Linked DNA regions of Homo sapiens. The protein of the gene in region 1 purifies or fractionates together with the protein of each later gene. This does not show direct contact. Each region holds a gene or a part of one and is shown in the gene's direction. Other genes may lie near its edges.

Region 1 (7,346 bases):
AGGCTGAGGCAGGAGAATGGCATGAACCCGGGAGGTGGAGGTTGCAGGGAGCCGAGGCCGCACCACTGCACTCCAGCCTGGGTGACAGAGTGAGACTCCAACTCAAAAAAAAAAAAAAAAAAGATCTTGGGGAGGCAGACAGCCCCCCAGATGGGCCTCTCCTAAAGTAGCTACAAACTGCTGATCCAGGTGACCCAGGATGGCGTGGGTGAAGAAGCTCACGACTTTTCCCAGCCTCCTCCAGGGCTCCATTTAAACAGCAAGCCTGGTGCAGGGTGGGAGAGTCTCAGGTGTGGAGGCAGCTTACAGGATTGAGGGGGCAGTGAAGAAAGAGGTTTCTGATCTACATGAGTACCTTGCTCTGAGCCTCCCAGCTCAGAACCCTCCAGCACCTCATGGCTCAGCACCAAGGCCCGGGGTTGGTCAGAACTCTTACCATGAGCCTCTGACCTGGCTGGAGATGGAGGTATGTTCTGTGGCAGACATGTCAGGACAGTCCTCCAGCCCTCTGCTCCTGATGGTTCTGTGACATTGGGTCTCTTGAGGGCAGTGGAGTGTCACACAGCTAATAAAGTACACATTTCATGTTGGACTGGGTGTGTAACTTATCTGAAGGTCATTACGTCTTTGACTGTGCTGTGGCTTTCTCCAAACCCTTCTTGTAAGGAGCTGCAGACTTACCCTCCACCATATCCAGTGTGTTGGGGACCTGAAGGTGGTTCTGCTGGGCCCAGAGGCTCCTGGAGCCTGGGGCTGTTAGGCCGAGGTGAAGGGAAGCAGAGGCACTGGCTTGGTGGCCCTAGGGGATCATGACAACAGCCAACACTTCGGTAGCACTCGCCCCGTACCAGGCACTGTGCTGACAGCTCTGCAGATACTTGTTCATCTAATCCTCAAAACAACCCCAACGGGTTGGTATTATTATCCCCATTTTACAGATGTGGGATCAGTAGCAGAGAGACTAAGACACCCAAACATGAGGGGGATTTCTGAGGTGCAGGTACTGTTCTGTTTCCTGATCTAGGTGCTGGTTACAGGTGTTCAGGTTGCGAAAGAGTGTGCTTCTGTGTGTAAATTATACCTCAGTTAAAAAGAAAATAAAAATAAAAAAAGAGGCCAGGTGTAGTGGCTCATGCCTGTAATCCCAGGGCTTTGGGAGGAGGATGAGGCAGGAGGACTGCTTGAGGCCAGGAGTCCAAGGTTACAGTAAGCCGTGATTGCATCACTGAACTCACACCCTGGGCAAGGGAATAAGACCCTGTCTCAAAATGAAAATTTTAAAAATCATCCCCGTGCCCAACACGGGGCATTTGTATTGACCCATTTCTACCCAAATAGCAGCGATTTGAGAGCCACCACCATCTATTTTAAAAACACAAGAAACCCTTCTTTAACATCGTTCTTTTTTCTTTTCTCATAATTCCCACTTATTCCTCCCATAGTTTTATCCTACATGTAATTTATTGGTATGCTTCAAAGCCTAATATTGATCACCCTATCATATGTTTGCAACACAAATATGTATACAGGCTGGGTGCAGTGGCTCACTCATGCCTGTAATCCCAACACTTTGGGAGGCTGAGGCTGGAAGATTGCTTGAGCCAGGAATTCAAGACCAGCCTGGGCAGCATAGCTCAACCTGGTCTCTACAAAACAATTTTTTTTTAATTAGCCAAGCATTGTGATGCGCACCTGTAGTCCCAGGTACTACAGGGCTTGCTGGGAGGCTTGGGTGGGAGAGTCACTTGAACCTAAGAGGTCAAGACTGCAGTAAGCCATGTTCATGCAACTGTACTCCAGCCCGGGTAACAGAGCAAGACTCGGTCTCTTAAAAAAAAAAAAAAAAGTGGCTGGGCGCAGTGGCTCACACCTGTAATCCCAGCACTTTGGGAGGCTGAGGTGGGCAGATCACGAGGTCAGGAGATCAAGACCATCCTGGCTAACAGGGTGAAACCCCATCTCTACTAAAAATACAAAAAAAATAGCCAGGCGTGGTGGCAGGTGCCTGTAGTCCCAGCTACTCGGGAGGCTGAGGCAGGAGAATGGCGTGAACCCAGGAGGTGGAGCTTGTAGTGAGCCAAGATCGTGCCACTGCACTCCAGCGTGGGCAACAGAGCAAGACTCCGTTTCAAAAAAAAAGTAGGTCGGTCATGGGGTGGCTCATGCCTATAATCCCAGCATTTTGGGAGGCTGAGGTGGGAGGACCAGTTGAACCCAGCCTGGGCAACATAGCAAGATCTTGTCTCTACAAAAAATAAAGGAGGCAGGAGGATTGCTTGAGCCCGGGAGGTCAAGGCTGCAATAAGCACTGTTTGCCCCACTGCACCACCACCTGGATAACAGAGCAAGACCCTGCCTCAAAACGAATGTGTATAAATTAATTGACATTTTAAAATTAATTTTTGTAACCTTAATAAGGCTTTAAGGGTTACATCTATTAGTAGTACAGTTGTTCAAAACAACATAAATATATATTCAATTTTCTAATAAAAACTAAAATTTTATTGGAAATATACGTCATAAAAGAGAAAATTTCCTCCCCCCGTTAGTTCCTATATCTGTGGATAAATATCATTATTTTTTATTAGAATAAGACAAGGTACCGCGAATTTTGTACGTCTTTTTCTTTCCTTTTTAAATTTGTTTTTAAACTTTCCTCCTTACAGGGGATTTCCTTTAGCTGGGCATGGTGGCGGGCGCCTGTAATCCCAGCTACTCAGGAGGCTGAAGCAAGAGAATCACTTGAACCCTAAAGGCAGAGGTTGCAGTGAGCCGAGATAGTGCCACTGCACTACAGCCCGGGCGACAGAGTGAGACTCCATCTCAAAAATAAAATAAAATTAAAAAAAAAAGAGGATTTCTTGGCCAGATGCGGTGGCTCACGCCTGTAATCCCAACACTTTGGGAGGCCGAGGCTGGAAGATCATTTGAGGTCAGGAGTTCGACACCAGAATGGCCAACATGGTGAAACCCCATCTCTACTAAAAATACAAAAATTAGCTGGCTGTGGTGGTGCACCCCTGTAATCTCAGCTACTCGGGAGGCTGAAGCAGGAGAATCACTTGAACCTGGGAGGTGGAAAAATCATTTATCATTAAAAATTATATTTAGTGCCCAGAATGGTGGCTCAAGCCTGTAATCCCAGTACTTTAGGATGCTGATGTGGGAGGATCGCTTGAGCCCAGGAGTTCGAGATCAGCCTGGGCAACATGGAGAGATCTCATCTCTACAAATAATAATTTAAAAATAGCTAGGTGTGGTGGCAAATGTCTGTGGTTCCAGCTACTCCAGAGGCTAAAGTGGGGGAATCGTTTGAACCTAGGCAGTCCAGGCTACAGTGAGCCCTTATCACACCAGTGCACTCCAGCCTGGGTGACAGGGCAAGACCCTGTCTTTAAAAAAAAAAAAAAAAAGTATTTAATGTTATCATCCAACAATTCAATACAAACCTCCTTCAATTTTGATGAAAGCTGAGAATTGGAAATAATTTATATAAAGGTGTCATTTGGTCTCTGGCCCTTCCCCTTTTCCAACTCACAGGCACAGATACCTTTGGGGCTGGATTAGCATTTGCGTTGGGATCCACGGCGGGAAGGGTACAGGATGGGAACTGACAAAAACAGAGCCAAGCTGGTCGGGTCGGTGCCTACCCCAGAATTCGGGGACATTTCTAGATCCTGCAGGAAAGCGCGGGAGGGCCTGACTCAAGCTGGCCTGGCCCTGAGCGCATCTGCGCGCCCGAAGCCTGTCCCTGAGGCACGGAGAGAGCAGCTTTCGGGTTAAAAGGGCCCTGGGAAGAGATGGGGCGGGAAGGTGGTACCCGTTGGGCGCAGGCCAGGCTGCCAGGCCGCAGGGCTCTGTCCCGCGAAAGTCAGTAGGTCTTCCACTAAGGCAGAATTGTACTTTTACTCGACAGCGTGGAGAGGCCGCTCAGAACAGCAGCAGCGGAGGGGAAGTCAGCGCAGGTCACAGACGGTTTCACTCTCAGAGACTTGGCCTAGAACTTGGAGGCCCGCTGCTACAGCACGCTCGCCTCCAGGCCACCCACGCCCCCACCACCCGCACTGAGCCGTTATCTGCCTGACTGACATCTTGGCCAACCAATGACCTTTGGGGCTGCCAAAGCGCCTGCCTCCGAGAGTTGGGCGGGGCGAGTAGTTGCAATGACAAACATTTAACCCAATAGCGAGGAGATTTCAGACGCTACGGCCGCAATAACCAATGACAAGAAAGAATCCTTTCGAAAGGACGTGTCAGGCAACCAACGGCCGGTGCCGCTGCGGGGGTCCGGCGGCTTCCGTTCCGAGAGGGCGGGGCGGCGTCCCAAAACGGAAGGTGGTTGTCGTCCGTTCCCAAGCTGGTTTGAAACTAGGGGTCGGGCTCGGCCGTCGTCGTTGTTTGTCGCCGCATCCCCGCTTCCGGGTTAGGCCGTTCCTGCCCGCCCCCTCCTCTCCTCCCTTCGGACCCATAGATCTCAGGCTCGGCTCCCCGCCCGCCGCAGCCCACTGTTGACCCGGCCCGTACTGCGGCCCCGTGGCCACCATGTCCCTGCACGGCAAACGGAAGGAGATCTACAAGTATGAAGCGCCCTGGACAGTCTACGCGATGAACTGGAGTGTGCGGCCCGATAAGCGCTTTCGCTTGGCGCTGGGCAGCTTCGTGGAGGAGTACAACAACAAGGTGGGCCGGGCAGGGGCTCGGAACCCAGCTGGCGGGGAGCGGGCCCCGGGAGCGCCCTTTCCGGGCCGGAGCCCAGGCCTCAGAACCCTCTTGCGGACTCGCCCTAGGGCCACGGAGCGGTTCCTCTGTCTGGCCCTGTGCTGAAGGTTTCGTACTCGTTGTCTGTCTCCTTTAATCCAGGCAGCATTCTTGTGTAGTCGGCAGTGTAGTGGGGAAACTGAGGCACGGTTTTGTGACTTGCCTGGGTCAGGCAGCTATTTCGGGGTGGAAACAGGTCTTAAAACCGGGTTTACGCCCCAAAGATACTCCATTTATTCATCCCGTGCTCTCCACTCCTGCCGCATTGCTTTCGTTGGTGGGCGGGGAAGGGAAGAGAGAGTGATAGCTGTGAAGGAAAATGCAGGCGCTTCTATTGGTGGTCGTGCACTCCTGGCCACACTAGATTTCTATTAAGACGATCTATTGTACAAGCTTCCCCGCCCCCTACTCCCACCCCCCCCGGGTACTCATGGATCCTAGCCCTTCTGCCAGAATTACTGTTGCTCTTGCTTCCTGATATCCATTCTCTCTAAAGCAATCTCTTTGGAAATCTTGGCCTGTGGCATGATCCCGCCGTTGTTTCCTGAACACAGAAGGATGACAGGGCCTTATCTCTTGGCTTGTTTCGTGCTAGTACAGTTGTGTGACCTTTAGTAGTAAGTCTTGCTGGACATACATCAATTTGAGAATCCTTTATAGAAGCACGGTGTAGTAGGGGAGCTTTTAAACTGGCATTGCAACAAACTCATTTTTGAAAGTTGAATAAGTCAGTTGGAAGAATTTTCTTTCTTCCTTTTACTCAAAGTTGTGAATGATAGCGATCAGAGCAACTGAAAGCTGTGGCTAGTGATATTTAAAGCCACTACTCCTGCTTTATGCCATGAACATCAGATTTAAGAAGAGTAAAACTGGCCGGGCGCGGTGGCTCACGCCTGTAATCCCAGGACTTTGGGAGGCCGAGGCGGGCGGATTACCTGAGCTCAGGAGTTCGCGACCAGCCTGGGTAACACGGTGAAACCCCGTCTCTACTAAAATACAAAAAAAAAAAAAAAAAAAAAAAAAAAAAAAAAAAAAAAAGCCGGGCGTAGCTTAGTGCGCCTGTAGTCCCAGCTACTCGGAAGTCTGAGGCTGGAGAATTGCTTGAACCTGGGAGGCGGAGGTTGCAGTGAGCCGAGATGGCGCCACTGCACTCCAGCCTGGGCGACAGAGTGAGACTCTGTCTCAGAAAAAAAAAGAAGAATAAAACTGTTCAGTGACAAGGCTGATGCAGGGGGGAAGAAACCAGGTGGTCCTGTCTGGTTATTGACTAGCTGTGAGATGTTGCACAGGCCTGTTTTATTATCTGTGACCCACAGTTTGTACGGAAGGGGTTCTGGTTTACATGTGAGGGTCTTGTAAAAAAGAAATTTGAACATTTCACAGTTTGTTTACAGTTTTTCAGGAGCACATTTGTTTCTCTAGAGTAGGTCCTCTTTGGAGTCCACTTTGAGAAGCTGATGAAAGCTATGGATTCTCATTGTCCAGACATTACACATACATGAACAATTTACAAACAAATCCAAGGAATATGCACTGATCTTTAAGTCCACCCATTGCCCGGGCGAGATAGAGCTTTCTTTCCTCTGTTGCTTCTTTCTTCCTTATGGCCCATAGTGGACAGCAGAACTGGAAATGGGATTCACGATTCTGATGTGGACACCGTGTTAATAAAATTAAGACCACTAGAACTATTGTTTAAAGATACACGTGGAAAATAAAAAAGTATGTCTTTCAAAGGGCTTAAGTCTTTTTACACAAATTAATGTTTTTTCTTGTAAGTTTTTCCAGGGTCGTTGGGTAAGCAATAGTTACTCCTATTCCTCAGAGAGGAGAAACTGAGCCACAGTTAGGCTGCTTGGTAGGATCAGTGGAGTAGTCAAACTGCTGTTGCAGGAACTCTACCCCAGTTTGTCCTTTCATTTAGCAACTATCTGGAGCTTCCTCTTTGTGACAGGCACACAGGTAGCATGGCTTAGCAGTGAAATGCAAACTAATAACCCCACTATCAACAGCATTAGCAGTTAACTATATCTTAACTCACATGATGTAGGCAATGCGCTGTCTTAAAATCATTTTTGTGCCTCCACCTATCAGTAGATCAGGGTTCTTAAATTCTGTGTGCCATGGTCATCTGATACCAATAGACCCCTTCTCATAGTTATGTTTTCAAATGCATAAAACACATAGAATTACAAAAGAAACCACTTATGTTGCACTACAGATATAAACAACATGTTTTTTAAAGTGGTGATGTAGTCATATGTACTTTTAATAAATTAACTTATTGATTTACACCATCCACTGTAATTATTAATGTAATTTTGAAATGGTGACAAGGGTAAACAGCATTTCAAGATGCTTAACAACTGTGCTGTGGTGGGAAAAAAAAATTCTCTTGCTGGCAAAGTCACAGACAGTCATACCACTGTGAGCACCTGACCCCATTTGTAATTGAAGGAAACAAAAAAATTTAGCTAGAGGTTAATGGAAATATGGGGATAATTTTCCAATTCAAGTTCACAGACCCCAAGTTAAGAAACCCTGCGAGAGAGAAGTATGTGTAGTGGTTGGTGAGCAGCAAATCCTGC
Region 2 (7,242 bases), on another chromosome or scaffold:
AAAGAGATTATAGAGGACTTTGCCATGAGTTTCTGGGAACTGCACACTCCTGGGGCAACCCGGGAGAAATAACCCGGGCCCTGAGAACATCCTACTCCAGGCAGTGTGGCTGCGCAAGAAAGGTTTATACGGCACACCAAGAAGAGAGAGCCAGAATGGGAAATACTCCCTGGCAAGTAAAAAAAAGGGAAAAGGAAAAGGAAATGAAGGAAAAAGATGGGGGAGCCCAGAAAGACGCGGGAGAGAAAACAAAAAGAAGGGAGGAAGAAAATAAATGAGAGCCGAGGAGAGCGCAGGCCGTGGCGAGACCCCGGGCCGGGCCGCGGCTCCTGCACGCCAGGCTTCTCCCCTGCCCCGAGCAGCGGCGAGGGCCGCGCGGGACTGTCCCCTACTGGCCCCGCGAATCTGGGCCTTGCTCCCAGTCAGGTGGGGCGGACCTGGGTGCAGAGGCCTCCGCGCGCGCTTTCTCTCCCCGCTCCCAGGGACCGCGAGGCGGGGCAGGACAGGGGTGGGGAGGCCCCCGGGGGCGCGCGCCAGTCCGGGACTGTTTGGGTGCTCTGGGCCAGGCTTTCCAGCTCGCCGGGCCTGACCTGTCAGGCGGATTATCTTCGAGGGAGATTAATAGGGGAGGCGGGCTGCAATAATAATCGTTTTGTTTGATGTGACAACTCTGATAGGCGTTGATTTACTTACAAACTGATAGGCTTTTAATTGAGCGCCTCCGCCGAGCCCGAGATGAAAGGGAAGCGGCGGTGAAAGGCGGCCCGCCTGCCCTCCGGCCTCAATACTGATTAGCCATCTCGACAGTGAATAGTTCAAGGCATTTTCAAACTTTTTTCCTCAGCTCTTTCCCCTTCCTTCTCCTCCTCCCACCCCCTCCTCCAATATCTGCCTTGCCCACTCCTTTTTTAGAGAAAACAAATCATTTCCATTGTTTGCAAATAAAATCCGCAGGACATCCACGCCAACTGCTGCTGGGGGTTGGAGGCTTTAGGCCTGGCGCAGAGTAATTAATGGCCCCCACTCCCGGGCCCGCGCCGGCCTTCGGGGGTTTGGCCTCCTGCGCGAGGTGCGCAGGCTCGGACGCTGGCGCCTCCCAAAAGCCCCGGGCGCGCAGGCCCCCAGGCGCCCCCATGCGCTCGGACCCTCGGAGTGGAGTTTTGAGAAAAGCGAACGCACGCTGACCACGACCCGCACCCACGCAGCACAGCGCAGCCCCACGAGCGTGTGTGGCCACACCGGGGGACGCAGGAGCCACTCCACGGCCCCCCCAGGCTTCAGGTGCTGAGGCTGCCTCCCCTGAGCCGCCGGCGTAATAAGCTGCTGGAATTAGAGGAGAGGGGGAAGAGCTGAGTCTGGAGGCTGGGGAGGGACGCCCTTGGCTGCGTCCCCCCCGGCCCTGTCGCAGGCCCCAGAATTTCAGTGCCCGGGCCTCGCGGGGAGGCCGCGGCGATAGCGGCCCAAAGGTGGGCTCGCGGCGTTAGGAGCACTACCATTGGTTGGGTCGACACCTAGACGGCCGCGCACTCAGTAACCAGGCACACATGGACACACCCGAAGGATAAGAGTGCTTCACAGACGCGCTGCCCCGCAGAGACAGCGTAGGACTGTCCCGCCCTCCGAAACGCGCACCTGGGACTTGCTCCCCGGAGACCAGACAACCGCCTCCCTCAGCGTGGGGCCTCGCCACCCGCTCGCCGACTCACCTCCCTCAGATGTCGCACGGACACTACAAACCCCCTTGAATGCAGGTGTGCTCTTACACGCTCACACTGACAAACACCAGCCCCAAGCACACACCGCCTCACTCCCCTCTTCTCTCCAAATGAGCTTCAGTCAAGTTACCATTTCATAAAGTTTACCAACCCAAAGAATCAAGGGATAAAATCCAAACGCAGAAAAAGAATGCCTAGGAGCAAATTCTAAAACTCACCCCGGAAAGTTCTCGGTACCCGTGCGGAGTGGGAGACAGAGAAAGAAGCCGGGGAGGGGAGTCAGGTGGGGGAGGGGAGTGAGATGGGCCAAGAGGAGAGGGCGAGCATACCAAGGGCAGTTCCAGACCCGACCCCCGCGCGCACCCGGCTCAGCCCCAGGTGCGCGCCGGTCGAAACCGGGTCTCCAGGCTCGGCCCCCGCCCCCCACGCGGGCACAGACTGGCTCCCGACTCCCAGAGCTCCCAGCCCCACCATTTATCAAAAGGACTTGACAACAAAAGAAGAGCCGGGGCGGAAAAGCGGAGGAGGGGAGATTCAAAGTCTTCTAAGTCGTTCCGAGGAAGGGGGTGTGTCCTCCTCCCCACCCCCTCTAATTTCTGCGAGTTCCTGGAGGAGACCCTCGAACCCGCTCCGGACGCTATCAGAGCCCCGATAACTCACGCAGCGCCACAGGCATGCATACACACTGGGCATCCAGGTCCAGGTACCCGGTGGCACGCACAGCGCCTCCCCTTTTCTTCCCAAACAACCCGAGTGACGGTGCAAATCGAGGGGAACGCGGCAGTCCCGCTCCGCTTCCCTGGAAGAACCCGCGTTCCCACAGGCAGCCGCCCCCTCCCTCTCTCGCTCCTTCCCTCGGCTCTCCTAGCGCAGCTCATTCCGACTCGGCGTTCCAATAAATTCGAGAGAGCAGCCCCGAGTTACCCTGGCTCCCCAGCCTGCGGGGATGGCGGCAGGTGGGAGAAGGTCGGGGAGGGGGCATGAGTGAGCCTGAGATGTTTCTTCCCCCATACACCCATGGCCAGGCCTCTTCTTCGCAGCCTCTTAGCCCTGCTTACGACCCGAGGGGGTCAAAGAATTGAGGCGAGGTTTGCCCCACCATTGACCTCCAGGACTAGAAGTTCCTTGGTGGTGTGGCTCTTAGAAGTCTCCGAGTTTGGGGTTAGGGAACTACAGAGGGTGGCAGCCTGACCTCCGCACGCAACACGCCCCGCGAGGACTCGCGGCGGCGGGGTGGGGTGGCGGGAAATCTCCCGTGTTAGAAGTTGCCGCCGCTGGTCTCGGGTACCCGGAGCCGCGCCCGAACTCCGCGACCCCAACAGACCGAGGCTCCCAGAGGTGGAAGGGCGTCTCTCCGACACCGAGAGGGCAGGCGCACACTCCAGGCCTGCGCGCCCCTCTCGGCGCCCTGGGCGCACCTGCGCACTTTACTCTCGCTATTCATTTTCCTGACACCGTGCGCCTCTTTCATTCTTTTTCTTAGAGCCCCCACCCCACCCCCATCCCAGGAGGCCGCTCCTCTTTTCCCCTCCTCCAGTTCCCTCTCAATCTCCTCCTTCCTCTCCGTCTCTCTCTCCCTCTCTCTTTTTCCCTTCAAGTCGCACCCGCCTTGTAATCAGCAACAAAAGCTGACATAAATCACGGGAGGATTGACAAGAGCTGACAAATAACTGATTGATTGCGGTCGAGGAACATTGACAATTGATGGAGGGGTGGAGATGCCCAAAGAAGGGGGGGAGGGAGGAAAACAGGGTGGGAGAGTAAGAATGGGGGGTTGGGGGACAGACTGAGGGTGAAACAGAGGAAACATGTGACCCCCGCTGCTGCCCCAATCTACGCGTCCCCGGGCGTCACGTGGCCGGGAAGGGCGGAGAGCCCAGCGCTCCTCGCGGTGTTGAGCCGCCGCCGCTGCGACTGCCCATCTAGCTTCTGGTTTCTCCGCCGCGGAATCTGAGGAAATTAGAGCGGGCGGGCGGGCTTCTTCCAGCTCCGGCTCCCCACCTTGCCTTCTTACCCTGGTGGCTGCGCTGCGCCGCGCGGGATCTCGATTACTGCGAAGGAAAAAACACTGGGTGTGCAGGTTCCCTTCGCCCCTGGAGTTGACAGTCCGGCCGGTGTCCACACTCCCACCGGTGCTCCTTCTGGACACCCCCCGCAGTCTGTTCCTCACGCGCACCCCCCTTCAAAAGAAGGTTTCAGTTTATTTTCGAGCTGGGGAAAGGAAGAACGACGAGGAGGAAAAAAGAGGGAGGCGGCGGATGGCAAACGTAGAATAAATGTCCATCTCGTCCTCCCAGCGAAATCGAGGGAGGGGACACACAGGGGGGCGGCGAAGAGGGAGCTGCCCATTAAAACCGGCACTGAGAGTCCTGGCAGCGGCGGCGGCGGCGGCGCGGGACGCGTCACATCCCCTTGACCCTCCAATCACCTCGGGCTCCCATTTGATTGGAAGGCGGCAAAGGCTTTAATCTCCCCCTTGGTGCAGCTGCTTTTGAAGTGAGTTTCCTCGCCAGAGCCCCGGCTGGACACGCAGCGGCTCGCATCGCAGAGCGCAGCGCCGGCGCGGGGCCGCGAGAACGCAGCGCAGGGGAGCAGCCCGAGGCGGACACCGCGAGCCGCCCGGCACTCCCGCAGTCCAGCCGGCTCCTCTAGCCCGGCCACGGCTCCGCTGCGGGCCACCCAGGATTACTCGCGTCTGGCTCCAGGCGCCGAGAAGGCGCGCTGGGCGCCCGTGGCCGCCGCGCCAGCTCCTCCTCCTCCCGCTGCTCCTGCTCCCGGGGCGAGCGCGCAGCCCCGAGCCCGCCCCGCGCCTCCCGGAGCCCTCCCCCCCGCTGCTCCCATGCGCGCGGGTGGGTCATGAGCACAGCGCCCTCGCTTTCTGCCCTAAGAAGCAGTAAGCACAGCGGCGGCGGCGGCGGCGGAGGCGGAGGCGGCGGTGCAGACCCTGCCTGGACCAGCGCGCTCTCTGGAAATAGCTCCGGCCCCGGCCCAGGCTCGTCCCCGGCCGGCAGCACCAAGCCTTTTGTGCACGCCGTGCCCCCCTCTGACCCCCTGCGCCAGGCCAACCGCCTGCCAATCAAGGTGCTGAAGATGCTGACGGCACGAACTGGCCACATTTTGCACCCCGAGTACCTGCAGCCCCTGCCTTCCACGCCGGTCAGCCCCATCGAGGTAAGGACCCTCTCTCTGGATCGCACTGGGACCACTACCCTGGCTGCCACCCTAGGGCTTTCTTTTTCTCGGGATCTGGGCGGAGGTGGGGGGGTCGGAGTGATTCAGCTCCCGAATGGGGGAAGAGGCTACTGCTTCCGTACCTCAAAACTAGGGCGGAAAAGGGGGAGGAAGTGGAATGGGGCGTGCATGCTAGGGAGCAAGGCTGCCAATACTTGTTTCTCCTTTCGATATGAAAGCCCCTACCCCGACCCAGGCCCCTTCACTCGGCACCGAAGGCAGGCGGAGGTCTGAAATACGGTTCCAAAGTCGCCGTCCTTCGTATCCGCAGAAGCCAGTGTGTGCACACAGCCTCTGAGGCGCCAGCCGCCCGAGCCCTTACTCTGAAGAATTAAGGAGTGTTTGTGGGGAGGGGGTACAGTTCTGGGTCTAGGAACCGAAAACCAAAACATTTTGCTCTTTAAAAATCTAGTTAGCGCTCAGAGAGGGCAGGAAAGATGCTGCTGGGGGTGGTGGTTGGGCGGGGGGAGCAATCTGCTGCCTTTCCCAACGGCGAGAATGTTTGTGAGTGGGTGTTGAAGAGGGGGTGCCGCCTAGAATTGCGCCTTGGGGCTGGGAGGATCTTCGTGGGCTGTTGCGGAGAGGCATTTGAACCCCAGAAGCCAGGATTCTAAAGGGTTTCCACTTCTTTCTCTGTGTGACGCTCCCCCCCCATCGTCTGACCCCGCAGCTCGATGCCAAGAAGAGCCCGCTGGCGCTGTTGGCGCAAACATGTTCGCAGATCGGGAAGCCCGACCCCTCGCCCTCCTCCAAACTCTCCTCGGTTGCCTCCAACGGGGGCGGCGCGGGCGGTGCCGGCGGCGGTGCTGCGGGCGACAAGGACACCAAATCGGGCCCCCTGAAGCTGAGCGACATCGGCGTGGAGGACAAGTCGAGTTTCAAGCCGTACTCCAAACCCGGCTCGGATAAGAAGGAGCCGGGAGGCGGCGGTGGAGGCGGTGGCGGTGGCGGGGGCGGCGGCGGGGGTGTTTCGTCGGAGAAGTCGGGATTCCGGGTACCGAGCGCCACCTGCCAGCCATTCACGCCCAGGACAGGCAGCCCGAGCTCCAGCGCCTCGGCCTGCTCGCCGGGAGGTATGCTGTCCTCGGCCGGGGGTGCCCCGGAGGGCAAGGACGACAAGAAAGACACCGACGTGGGCGGCGGTGGCAAGGGCACCGGGGGCGCCTCGGCCGAAGGGGGACCCACGGGGCTGGCACACGGCCGGATTAGCTGCGGCGGCGGGATTAATGTGGATGTGAACCAGCATCCGGATGGGGGCCCGGGAGGCAAGGCTCTGGGCTCGGACTGCGGCGGTTCATCGGGCTCCAGCTCCGGCTCCGGCCCCAGCGCGCCCACCTCCTCCTCAGTGTTGGGCTCTGGGCTGGTGGCTCCCGTGTCACCCTACAAGCCGGGCCAGACAGTGTTCCCTCTGCCTCCCGCGGGTATGACCTACCCAGGCAGCCTGGCCGGGGCCTACGCCGGCTACCCGCCCCAGTTCCTGCCACACGGCGTGGCACTTGACCCCACCAAGCCGGGCAGCCTGGTGGGGGCGCAGCTGGCGGCGGCCGCGGCCGGGTCTCTGGGCTGCAGTAAGCCGGCCGGCTCCAGCCCTTTGGCCGGAGCGTCTCCGCCGTCCGTGATGACAGCCAGTTTGTGCCGGGACCCTTACTGCCTCAGCTACCACTGCGCTAGCCACCTGGCAGGGGCGGCGGCCGCCAGCGCTTCTTGCGCACATGATCCGGCTGCTGCGGCTGCGGCGCTGAAGTCCGGATACCCGCTGGTGTACCCCACGCACCCGCTGCACGGTGTGCACTCCTCGCTAACGGCCGCCGCGGCTGCTGGCGCCACACCGCCCTCCCTGGCCGGCCACCCCCTCTACCCCTACGGCTTTATGCTCCCTAACGACCCACTCCCCCACATCTGCAACTGGGTGTCGGCCAACGGGCCGTGCGACAAGCGCTTCGCCACGTCCGAAGAGCTGCTGAGCCACTTGCGGACCCATACGGCATTTCCCGGGACAGACAAACTGCTGTCGGGCTACCCCAGCTCGTCGTCTCTGGCCAGCGCTGCCGCGGCCGCCATGGCTTGCCACATGCACATCCCCACCTCGGGCGCACCGGGCAGCCCTGGGACGCTGGCGCTGCGCAGCCCCCACCACGCGCTGGGACTCAGCAGCCGCTACCACCCCTACTCCAAGAGCCCGCTTCCCACGCCTGGCGCCCCCGTGCCGGTGCCCGCCGCCACCGGACCGTACTACTCCCCCTACGCCCTCTACGGACAGAGACTGACCACCGCCTCGGCGCTGGGGTATCAGTGA

Evidence for each region. The genes of interacting proteins can lie anywhere in the genome.
Region 2: the proteins of DCAF7 (region 1) and ZNF503 purify together in Homo sapiens (affinity purification with mass spectrometry; 5 studies listed by BioGRID and IntAct, with this or other methods). This does not show direct contact.

Annotation. Positions count from the first base shown.
Region 1 is NC_000017.11:63,546,136-63,553,481, forward strand, and holds the start of DCAF7 (DDB1- and CUL4-associated factor 7), read left to right. Parts: upstream 1-4,341; 5' UTR 4,342-4,542; coding exon 4,543-4,680; intron 4,681-7,346. UniProt on the Homo sapiens protein: Involved in craniofacial development. Acts upstream of the EDN1 pathway and is required for formation of the upper jaw equivalent, the palatoquadrate. The activity required for EDN1 pathway function differs between the first and second arches.
Region 2 is NC_000010.11:75,398,749-75,405,990, reverse strand, and holds the start of ZNF503 (zinc finger protein 503), read left to right. Parts: upstream 1-4,226; 5' UTR 4,227-4,571; coding exon 4,572-4,886; intron 4,887-5,616; coding exon 5,617-7,242. UniProt on the Homo sapiens protein: May function as a transcriptional repressor.